Homo sapiens: one gene and its partners. The protein of the gene in region 2 interacts with the protein of the main gene of each other region in a biochemical or structural test. Each region holds a gene or a part of one and is shown on either strand. Other genes may lie near its edges.

Evidence for each region.
Region 1: the proteins of SLC9A2 (region 2) and CHP1 form a complex in vitro, tested with the Homo sapiens proteins (one study listed by BioGRID).
Region 3: the proteins of SLC9A2 (region 2) and SPTA1 form a complex in vitro, tested with the Homo sapiens proteins (one study listed by BioGRID).

The regions. Positions count from the first base shown.
Region 1 is NC_000015.10:41,228,977-41,232,730, reverse strand, and holds the start of CHP1 (calcineurin B homologous protein 1), read right to left. Parts: upstream 1,464-3,754; 5' UTR 1,349-1,463; coding exon 1,282-1,348; intron 1-1,281. UniProt on the Homo sapiens protein: Calcium-binding protein involved in different processes such as regulation of vesicular trafficking, plasma membrane Na(+)/H(+) exchanger and gene transcription. Involved in the constitutive exocytic membrane traffic.
Region 2 is NC_000002.12:102,699,412-102,703,165, reverse strand, and holds part of SLC9A2 (sodium/hydrogen exchanger 2 precursor), read right to left. Parts: intron 2,097-3,754; coding exon 1,935-2,096; intron 761-1,934; coding exon 664-760; exon of another isoform or gene 439-663; intron 1-438.
Region 3 is NC_000001.11:158,680,028-158,683,781, forward strand, and holds part of SPTA1 (spectrin alpha chain, erythrocytic 1), read right to left. Parts: intron 3,470-3,754; coding exon 3,344-3,469; intron 1,641-3,343; coding exon 1,500-1,640; intron 703-1,499; coding exon 556-702; intron 1-555.

The DNA of each region.
Region 1 (3,754 bases), on a different chromosome or scaffold from region 2:
GCTCAGGTGCTACATCCTTCATTAACTCAATAAGAATCATAAAGGTTTACTGAAAAGATAAAATATTGTATGCATCAATACAATTGTATCATACATTGCATTATCAAGGACTATTCAAAGTTATGATGGTATTTTACAGCGCTTCAGAATCCCGAGTCCTTTTGCTCCTTTGTTCAGACTAATGAGGAAGAGACTGGACTATAAAAAAAAAAATCAGTTCTGCAGGGCACGGTGGCTCACACCTGTAATCCCAGCACTTTGGGAGGCCGAGGTGGGTGGATCACTTGAGGTCAGGAGTTCGAGGCCAGCCGGGCCAACATAGTGAAACCCCATCTCTACCAAAAATACAAAAATTAGCCAAGCGTGGTGGCAGGCACCTGTACTCCCAGCTACCTGGGAGGCTGAGGCAGGAGAACTGCTTGAACCTGGGAGGCGGAAGTTGCAGTGTGCCGAGATCACGCCACTGCACTCCAGCCTGGTTGACAGAGGGAGACTCCGTTTCAAAAAAAAAAAAAAAAAAAATCAGTTCCTAGTACAAATTCACACGGAGATTTTTGGAGCACATCCAATTTCAATAGCGAATAAAAAAGTACACCAGCATAGTAGAAATCAATACATATATGAGATTAGGACAGCAAGTATCGTCGTGTAAGTAAAAAACTGGTGGTCACAGTATCCGTGTTTTTTCTCTAGAAGTTCAGATTGAAAGAAGTCTCACAATCCCAGACCCCTGATTGTTTAAAGGTCTCCAGGCATCGGGTCATGTCTCCCAAAGCCTTACTACACGGTCTTGCTTTCTGGGTGGTTTTCCCAATTTGTGACAAGAACTTGTTTGTAATTTCCCATAGTTGTCAGAGGTTTTAGGTCCTTACCCAGAAACGGATTTTCTACAGAATCCATCTCGAGTTCCTGAATTTGCTTCTCGGGCTTTACCTACTGTTCAGGATGCCTCTTCATAGGGAAGGGTGGTGCGAGGCAACAGAAAGGAAAGGAGTTCGGGGACTTTGATGGGCAGGGTGCAGAAAAGGGGGGCGTCGACGCTCTACGAGTGATCAAGAGTCCCGATTTTGAAGGGAAGGACAGCCCCACAGTAGCTAGAGCCCCGCTCCAGGAAGCTGCAGCTGGAAGAACAGGTCTTCCAGCTCTCGGTCCCCAAACCTGGAGGCTGCCCAGGACCCCCCAACCTCACAGGCACCCGAGCTCCAGACCTTAGCGACAGCCGCCCTTGGTTGTGAGGCCAGCCTGAGGCGCCCGGCGTTCCCACCCCCAACCCGAACTCACAGCCGGTCTCCTTCTTGATCTCCTCGAGCTCTTCGTCCCGCAGTAACGTGGAGGCCCGAGAACCCATCGCCGTGCCGGGAGCTCCTCCGGGAGCAGCGGCGCCAGAAGAGACGGCGACAGGAGGGAAGGAGGGAGGGAAGGAAGGGCTAGGGGTCAAGAAGGGAGAGGGCAGTGTTTCCACTGCGGACCCGGGAGGGAACCCAGGGGTGGTGCGCTGGGGAGGGCGGCCCCGAGGACCCGCCAATCAGGCGCGAGGCAGCGCCCGGCTCAGGAGCCAACGTCAGCGTTCGAGTTCCAGCCCCGAATGAATCAGCCCAGCTCCAGCCCAAGTCCTGCTGAAGACGGACCCCGCCCCCGGAACCGCAGCTGCCACCGGCCTTAAAGGGGCGATGCCACTCGGTCGCTAACGACGCAATTAAAAGGGCAACGTCATTGACCAACAGTTTTACAACAAACTAACCTGCGACAGGCAGCGTAGTCTACCTTTTCTCACAGGAATCGAACACTAGGAATCCTACTCGATAGGTGGCACGGATTGCGGAGAGAAACTTCGCGTGGGGGGGAACCCTAGGGTGTACCCTTCGGGGACTGCACGCGCTCTTCATCTTTCCTGGCTGCCGTCCTCCTCCCGGCCGCAGGGGGCGCTGGGGAGCCGGCCTCGGGGCCGCGTGCTGATTGGCTCCTCGGGAAACAGACGAGACTGGACGTTGGGCCGGGCGGGCGTCGCCTCTGCGGCGTGTGTCCCCGGCGTCGCGGACCTTTCTCCAGGTTTTCAGCCTGTGATTTGATAACCGCCGCCGGGTGGCGTGGAGCGTCCCGAGACTTCTTCCTTCATTGCAGCCCCTCTTCTTTTAGTTCTAGACTGAAGTTCGAGGAACGCACCACTTGGCTGAAATTAGGATCCAGATTTCCCAAACTTCCTTCGGAGGAAAAAGCCCTAACGATGGAGGACAGTGAATTCCTAGCTTATGGTCCGCCATTTATTTGAAGTTCCTTATTTTGTCTTAAAAATGAGAAATTTTGCATTTTATTCTCATGGTGTATTGTTTGTTTTGATTAAAAAGGTAGGCCTGGCACGGTGGCTCACGCCTGTAATCCCAGCACTTTGGGAGGCCGAGGTGGGCAGAACACCTGAGGTCGTGAGTTCGAGACCAGCCTGACCAATATGGAGAAACCCCATCTCTAATAAAAATACAAAATTATCCGGGTGTGGTGCCGCGTGCCTGTAATCCCAGCTACTCGGGAGGCTGAGGCAGGAGAATCGCTTGAACCCGGGAGGCGGAGGTTGCAGTGAGCCGAGATCGCGGCATTGCTCTCCAGCCTGGGTGACAGAGCAAGACTCCGTCTCAAAAAAAAAAAAAAAAAAAGGTAAAAGCCACCCGTTAAATTAGTGCCTACTCTCAGGTGAACCAGTTCTTACTGCTTCACCTGCCTTACCCCTTCACACCTGTTTGGTTAGAACACGTATAAGATAAGGAAGAACCGAATTCTGACTGCTGTTAGTACCCAAGTACCAGGATATTTTTGTCGTAGCAGGCTTTCCCAGGTCAACTTAAGTTACTAGTTTTAAGTGTTACCTAAGGCTTTACAGCTTAGCCTGAGGCCCCACACGTTCCCTGCAAGCTGAGGTTCTAGTTTGAAGAACTAGAGTTTTGTTTGTTTGTTGTTGTTGTTGTTGTTTGAGACGGAGTTTTTGCTCTTCTGCCCAGGCTGAAGTGCAAAGGCGCCATCTCAGCTCACCGAAACTTCCGCCTCCCGGGTTCAAGCGATTCTCCTGCCTCAGACTCCCTAGTAGCTGGGGTTACAGGCATGCGCCACCGTGTCCAGCTAATTTTGTATTTTTAGTAGAGACAGGGCTTCTCCATGTTGGTCAGGCTGGTCTCGAACTCCGTATCTCAGGTGATCTGCCCGCTTCAGCCTCCCAAAGTGCTGTGATTACAGGCGTGAGCCACCGCACCTGGCTTGTTTTGTTTTTTTGCGACAGAGTCCGGGCTGGAGTGCAATGGCCTGATCACTGTGCATTTTCGGCTCACTGCAACCTCCAGGCGGGTTCAAGGGATTATCATGCCTCAGCCTCCTGAGTAGCTGGGATTACAGGCGCGTGCCACCACGCCCAGCTAATTTTTGTATTTTTAGTAGAGACAGGGTTTCACCATATTGTCTAGGCGGGTCTCAAACTCCAGAACTCAGGTGATCCACCCGCCTCGGCCTCCCAAAGTGTTGGGATTACAGGCGTGAGTCCCCGTGCCCGGCCTTAGAGTTATTTTTATGATTGTCGTGCACTTGTCTAACCTAGTGATGTTGTCCTTTGTACTCAGTAACATTTTGGATATGCCCGTCTAAGAGCTAAATCACTGGAGCTGCTTTGTATGTTGGAATATGGCTGTGATAGGAAAATTTTGTCAGCCCCATGAATGTCCCTTTTCTCAGTCAGCCTTGAAGCCCATCTCTTGATGCTGACCTTACTTTTTTC
Region 2 (3,754 bases):
GGGGACACCAGCTAAGAAGCTGCTGAAACAGCCCCCACATGAGCAAGGAGGACTCCTGACAAGCTGTGTGGCCCGTGTGCCACTTCACCTCCCTGTGCCTCAATTTCTTTATCTGTGAAATGGCGACAACAGTAACACCTACCACTCACTGGAGGATTAAATGAGTTAATGCATGCAACACACTGAAATGGGGCTTGGAAAATTGAGGACACTCTCTACTCTGTAGCTGTGTTGTTAGCAAATTATTAGAATAAGGTGCTAACAATGGAAACGAAGTGAAAGAAGTGGCTCAGAAGAGAAGAAACTATAGCACTTTATAAATAACAAGGAGGGTGAGGTCCATTTTTAAAGTCTAAGCTATAAAACTATTTCTTTAAAACAAACAGCAATCAATTCATTTCTTTAAAATTAGTCAACGTGTATTTCTTTGTATCCAAGCCCACAGCAGCAGAACTCCCAGGGGACCCCAAGGCTTCAGCCATGGTGTCCAGGAGGATAGTAGGACCCTGAAGAGGGATGGAGAGAAGCAGAAGGAGAGAAGATGCCCAGCATGGGACCTGCTGAGCCCAGTGTCAAGATGCAGCCTCCAGTTACAGCACAAAACCAGAAGGCATCCTGTTAGCCAAAGGTAAGTAAATATTTTGCTACATAAATTATTCTTACTCGCTGACGGATTTGATAGAGATTTCTTGATAAGAGTTCTCGAATTTCATCAGTTTCACTGGACGTGACCTTCCTTATTTTTTCTTCACGACAATCACTGTGAAAGTTTAGAAAAAGAATATTTTACCTTTCAACAAATATTAGAATCATTGATTTTCTTCCTTAGAGATATAAGTATTTAAGACAAGTCTTAATTTGTAAAAATAGCACTTAGGGATTATTCAATAACTTAAAATAATTCCAAATTCTGTGACTCTTATTTCAGTTTCAAAATCATTCATGGCAAGTTTAACAATTCACAAGTTTTCAGAATCTATTCATGTCATTATGTTTTCAGGGAAGAAAAACTACAATGGCTTATAATGCTACCTCACTTTATTATTTCTAACACTCCATAAATAAAGTAAAATAGAATAGTTTTCTCCAACAGAAACCTAATTGACTTCAATTTACCATTAAGTTTTCATATTTTAAAAACCTCATCATAAATATTTGCAAACACACCATTTATAACATGTATGTATATCCAGTCAATCCTCATTTGTGGGTTCCATAATCATGAACTCACCTCACCTACTTGCTAATATTGATTTATAAACCCAATATCAGAATTTCAGTATTTTTGCAGTTATTCTCAGACATATGGAGAGTGACAAAAAATTTGAGTCACTTGACACAGTTTCCCTGAAGATGTTGAACAAGGAGACATCTGCTTTCTTGTTTCCACTCTCATACTATAAATAATGTCCTTCTCACAGTCTATTTAGTGACATGATTTTTTAATATTTTTATGTTATTTATTGGTGGTTCTGCTGCTTTAAATGGCCCCCAGGCATTGCTGAAGTGCTGTCTAGAGTTCCCAAGCACAAGAACCCTGTGATGTGCCTTATGGAGAAAATTTGTTAACTAAGCTTGATCATACATGAATTTATAGTGTTCTTGACCATCAATTCAATGTTAATGAATTAGCAATATATATTAAATAAGGTGTCTGTAAACATAAACATACATAAAATAGGTTACATATTGATTGGCTGATGAAAATTTTGTGACCACAGGCTCAAAGGAACCTAACCTTTATGTCCCCATAGAAAAATGATTCAGTATTTGCAGCTGGGCACAGTGGCTCATGCCTGTAATCCCAGCACTCTGGGAGGCCGAGGGGGGCGGATCAATTAATAATAATTTTTTTAAAATTATTATTACCAGTTTCAAAATACTATCAATGCCTATTTAACAATACTAACTTTTATTTGCAAGACCATACTTACTTTAGAGATGCAAATGTAGGGACAGTACTTATCATCCCAGTCTCTGCCATCTCAATGGCATGTTTTATTTCAAGCTTTTTATATAAAGATACAATACTTGACTTTGGTTGGTTTTCCCGAATCAAAAGCTTCCGCAGATATTTATCATCAAACTTCTTAAACCTGTAAATAAAGAAACTTTCAATAAATTAATACTGGATTGACTAAGAAAATAGTTGTTGTTTTTACCAATGAAGTCATTTCTGCCATTCCCAGGAAAATACTTAGTAGCAGCATTTAGCTAATCTGGTCATTTTATATATTTAGTATGTGCCTACCTGTATATATGTATATGTGTATGTGTATATATGTATATATGTGTATGCGTATGTATATGTATGTGTATGTATACATATGTATATATACATACACATACACATATATGTATATATGACACATACTGCTACATTTTTGTATATGACCCTGATGCACATAAATCTAGTATTCATTAATTACAGATTAAAATACATGTTTCTGTCTTTACCATTTCTCTACTTCTGCTTTTAGCGAAATTGCTCAGAAACGTTATCACTGTTTGTTTTCCCCAATTCCTCTCCTCTGATTCTCTCTTGAACATTCACATTGCCTCAATACTCCATTAAAGCTACTCTTATCAAAGTGGTCTGTGAACCTCATGATATAACTGCAGTGGGCAATTATGAATCCTCATCTTTCCTGCCCTCACTTGTGTAAACTATTGTCTTCATTTGGCTTCCAGGACACCACCCTGGGGTACCCCAACCTCCTTCTCACCCTCCCTCTCAGTTTTGTTTTCTTCTTTTGACCTGTTAATGTAGGAGTGCTCTGGGCCTCGGTTCTTAATCCTCTTTCATACCGCCACTCACTCCCGTCACCATCTTGCCCAGTCTCCTAGCTTTTAATAGCATCTCTATGCCAATGACCCCCAGATTTGTATCTCCAGCTCCAACCTCTCGGCCAAACCCCAGATATGAGCTTTTGGCTACTTACTCAACATCTGCAGTTGGATATCTATGGGGCATCCCAAATTTAACATATTCAAACTGAACTGATATTCTGCCAGAGTCCTCCCATCTCAGCAAACGATGACTCCACCAGGTCAAAAATCCTGGTGTCATCCTGGATTCTTCTACTTTTCTCATGTTCTATGTTATGGGCTGAATTGTGTCCCGCCAAAAATTCATATGTTAAAGTCTAATCCCCAGTAGCTCAGACTATGACCACATTTGAAGATCTAGTGTTTACAGAAGTGATTAAGTTGAGGCCATCAAAATGGGCCCAAATCCAAAATGACTGGTGTACTTATAAAAAGAAGAGGTTTGGATTCCAAAACATACAGAGAGAGGGAAGATGATGTGAAGAGGCAGGGAGAAGACAGCCATCTACAAGCCAAGCAGAGGGGCGTAGAACAGAACCTTCCCTCGTGGCCCTCAGAAGAAATGAGCCCTGCTGACACCTTGCTGTCTGACTTCTAGCCCCCAGGATTATGAGACAATTCATTTCTGTTGAGCCACTCAATCTGTGGTACTTTGGTTATGGCAGCCCTAGCAGACTAGTACTCCAAATCTTTGCGCCATCAGCAATTTCTGTTGGTTCCACATCAAAATACATACAAAATCCAGCCATCTCCCACCTCATCTAATGCTATCACCCAGGTCCAAGACATCATTCTCTCTCGGATTCTTGTAGTGAGCACCAAATTGGCATTCCTGCTTCCACCATTGCATTCCTACAGAAGCCCAAGTGCTCCCGTTAAAAATATGTCTAATGATGTAACTGTCCTGCATCTTCCTTGGGTACAA
Region 3 (3,754 bases), on a different chromosome or scaffold from region 2:
TCTATATACTTACATATACATGTAAACTTATATATATATACACATCACAAACTTAAGTATTTTCTTAAGTAAATAAAAGTAAAACCGCTTCCTTTCCTTCCTCAATCCTCCGAAATAATCTTGTATAATGATATTACATATGCATATATATGTATAAATAATGATAGCTCAACATTATTTTATATGCTCTGCTACTTTATTTTTGTGTTTTTTCATGAAGAAAGAGTGCCCCATTAACATGAGTAATCAGTGTACTGCATGGTACAGAAGCTACTATATAAATGGCAATAGCTTCACTGCCCATTGTGTATTTAATTTCTCCAAACACACAAAAACACACTCTCTCTTTCTCTCTCAACCCTCCATTTCAATAGACTTGTAAGGGGTGGGTCCAGAGGGGAGAGGAAACTGTTCAGAATATGTTACTCCAGGAACATGCCAACCTCTGTTTTCTCACAATGCCCCATCTCCTTCATATCCATCTACTAATGGCCAGAAGTTATTCTTAAGGATAAGAACCCTTTGCACGGAGTGAATATTTTGCTCCCACCTCACCTCGGCACACTCATTGGCATATTGGTTCACTTCAACAACTCTCCCTTCTTTAGCTACCAGCTCCACTTGGAAGTCTTCAAATTTCTTATGCAGAACTTCGGTGCGCTCCCAGTCTTCACCTAGCTCCACTGATGTCGCTATAGCCTCCTGTAGACACAGAAGTTGATTGAGTTGCCAGCAAACATTTAGGAGTTTCTGTAGGTCAAAAACTCAAAACTCCTGCTTGCATTCCCAGGATAACTCAAATGGAGATACTGGGGGAGACTGGGAGAAGCTCTCCTGGAAAAGGCCAGCAGCAGAAGTATATTTGTTAAGGTAGCACCTTGGCACAAGGGAAAGTGCTCTTTCGGGCAGTTCTTTAGCAAGTTTGTGGCATTACTGGCAAGAGACCCTGAAAGTACCCTTTTGTGTTTTGAAACATGAGGGATAAATTCATCCTGTTTCTACTCAATTCAACATATCAGTATCTACGAAAGTATTTTGTTAGGCATTTGCTTATCTAAATCTTTAGTCCTAACTATTAAATTATTCCTTTAGTATTTAGAAAAATAAAACCCTCCATCTTTATAGGCACTGAGACACAAAGGATTAGAGAAAGAGCTGTCAATACTCTCAGCCAGACCCCAGAGTAAGAGCAAAAACATAGGAGAAGGAGTTAAAAATCATGGAAGTGGAAGAGAGATGAGCCTAATTATCTTTCAATGCATGGTCTTTGTGTAAGTCTTGCCTTTTTCATATTCAGATCCATATGTTAAGACTTACTTCCATACAATGTTGACCTCCAGATACCCCTACATTTTGGCCCCAATTTCCTCTTGTTCCAAAGAACAAAGCCAGGAACAGACATCCTGACTTCCTTGTGAGTAGTCTGCAGTAATTTGCTATGGGGTACCTGGGACAGAGGAGTGGGAGGCCCTGTGTGATTGCTGTTTTAAGTTCGATACCTTGTCTCCAATCCACTCTAAGATGTCAGCACACTCCTGTACATACTGCTGGAACTTCAGGGCCCGCAGCAACTGGTCACCCTTCTCCAGGGTCAGCTCTAACAGCAGGTCCCACAGGTGGCGTAGCTCCTCTATATGGGCCTTTAGGAAAGAGGGGCAAAACCACTCAGCCACAGACACTGGGAGCAGGGAAACACTCAGAGACTTGTGCAGAAAGAGACCTGGATAAAAATTCTTCTCTCAGTTACTCATGCATTAGTTGCTCAACAAACATTTAAAAGAGGAAATAGGATAGATATATGGAAATAGCTAACAAGCCAAGCCAAATGCGATCTTACATAAGAGAACAATTTGTAAAAATGCTTTGCAGTTTTAAAGGATGGAATAATTACAAACAATAAGATGGGAAGGAGGAAGAAAGCATGGAAAAGTGTTCATTTGAACTGAGCCTTATGGAGCAGAAAGATTTTTGACAGGTCAATCATAAGCATAACATGTTCTAAGAAGAGCAAACAGCAATAGCAAAGGCATAGGAGAAACTTAGCATGAATTGTCTGCCAGAAAGTGTGAGAGCTATAATTTTTATAAGTTATAAGGAAATCATTGGCACCGAAACAATAACAGTGTTTTGGGACTATACAGTTTGAGAATCTACAGAGGGCTTTGAATGCCAGATTAACTCAGAACATTATGTATTACCTGTCTTATATAACTGAAATTGCCACCTATGTCATATCTTCAAGAATCTTATATTTTTCAACTACTCCATTGCTCTGGGTAGCATGTGGACCACATATGTCGTTAAACCCCGCAATGGTACCATTTGCTATAGCCCCAGTGATTCTGACAGAAATGAAGATGTTTCAAACATTTCTCAAATATTGTAATTAATGTAGATGCTGGTTACATGCAAAACTGTGCATAATACAAAAGTTAATTATACTTTATACAAATAAACAAGTTTTGAAATTTTCCTTTTATGGGTTCTTCTTTAAAATAAGATTCTATTCTGGCTAAAATCTGTGTCCGTTGACCATATTTTGATGACAGAATGGGCTAGAATTTTTATGCTATATATAGAAAGGCCAGACCCAGTTTTAAGATATATAATGCAAATTTGTTTTGACAATTAAAAAAATACATAAACAGTAAAAAGTTCACTCACACACAAAAAAATTGAATTGACAATATTAGCACAAACATTTGGAAGAGTTCGTAGATTAAGTCCAAAAATAGCTGTTACATTAATAATAGATTACAGAGTATGAATCCTTATTGAAATAGTGATGATCTTCATTTCTAGATGTTCAGAGAAAATTTTCTGACTACATGACATTTGGGAGTTTTTAGAAGTAATAAGAAGGGACAGTTTGGAGAGGTGCAATAGTAGTCATAGGGTATGGTGTATGAAAAGAAAGAGGCATCATAGACAAAGGAAAAATATTTTGGAAAACATTCAAATGAGAGAGCATTCCTTATTTGGAGAAGTTAAGAGACAAGGACATTGAGGTTAGAGGAAATAATTAGAAAGAACATTGGAAAAAACTAATTGATCTGGATAATGTGGAACAGGTTTAAGTGGGCTTGATCTTGAGCCAAATTATCCTGCACTGTTATAGGAGGAATTTTATGCCATTTAATGACAGCTTTAATATCACAGCTCTCTTCACCCCAAGAAACACGAAGATATCCCATCATTTTTTATGCCTCAACCCCAGGGGAAGATAAGAGGCAGGAGTCCTGGGTATAAGCCAGCCACTCAAGGTTTATATCTCATATAATCAGTTAAAACCCTGATAACATAATCAATAATTGGAAACTTCTTCAAGGGCCCATACATATACCTTCGTTTCTTCGTGGGCAGAATGACCCATGGTAAATCGTTCTTCCCTTGTTTTTTCCAGTTCAGACATGAGTCTTGATTTTGTTTGCACCTCTGCTTCAAGGGATTGATGCTTCTGATATTTCCCCTAAAGTTTAGAAATCAGAGTTTTTGTCTAATGAAGCACAGTCTTCATGGGAAATGTTCACTCTATGTAAAGCCACCAAACACAGGTTCTCAAAGGGTCCCAGACTCAGAGGCCATAAAGAGTATTTTCCTGTCCCCACTGGCTTTAGGAAGTTTTCAGTAAATACTGTCCTGAGCTATGCTGAGCCTTATGATCTATGCCGAGCCTTATTTTAAAGGCTCAATAGACTGCCATAGGAATAAAAGAGTGTAACACACAGTGTCCTTCCTCATCAGAAAAGAGGAA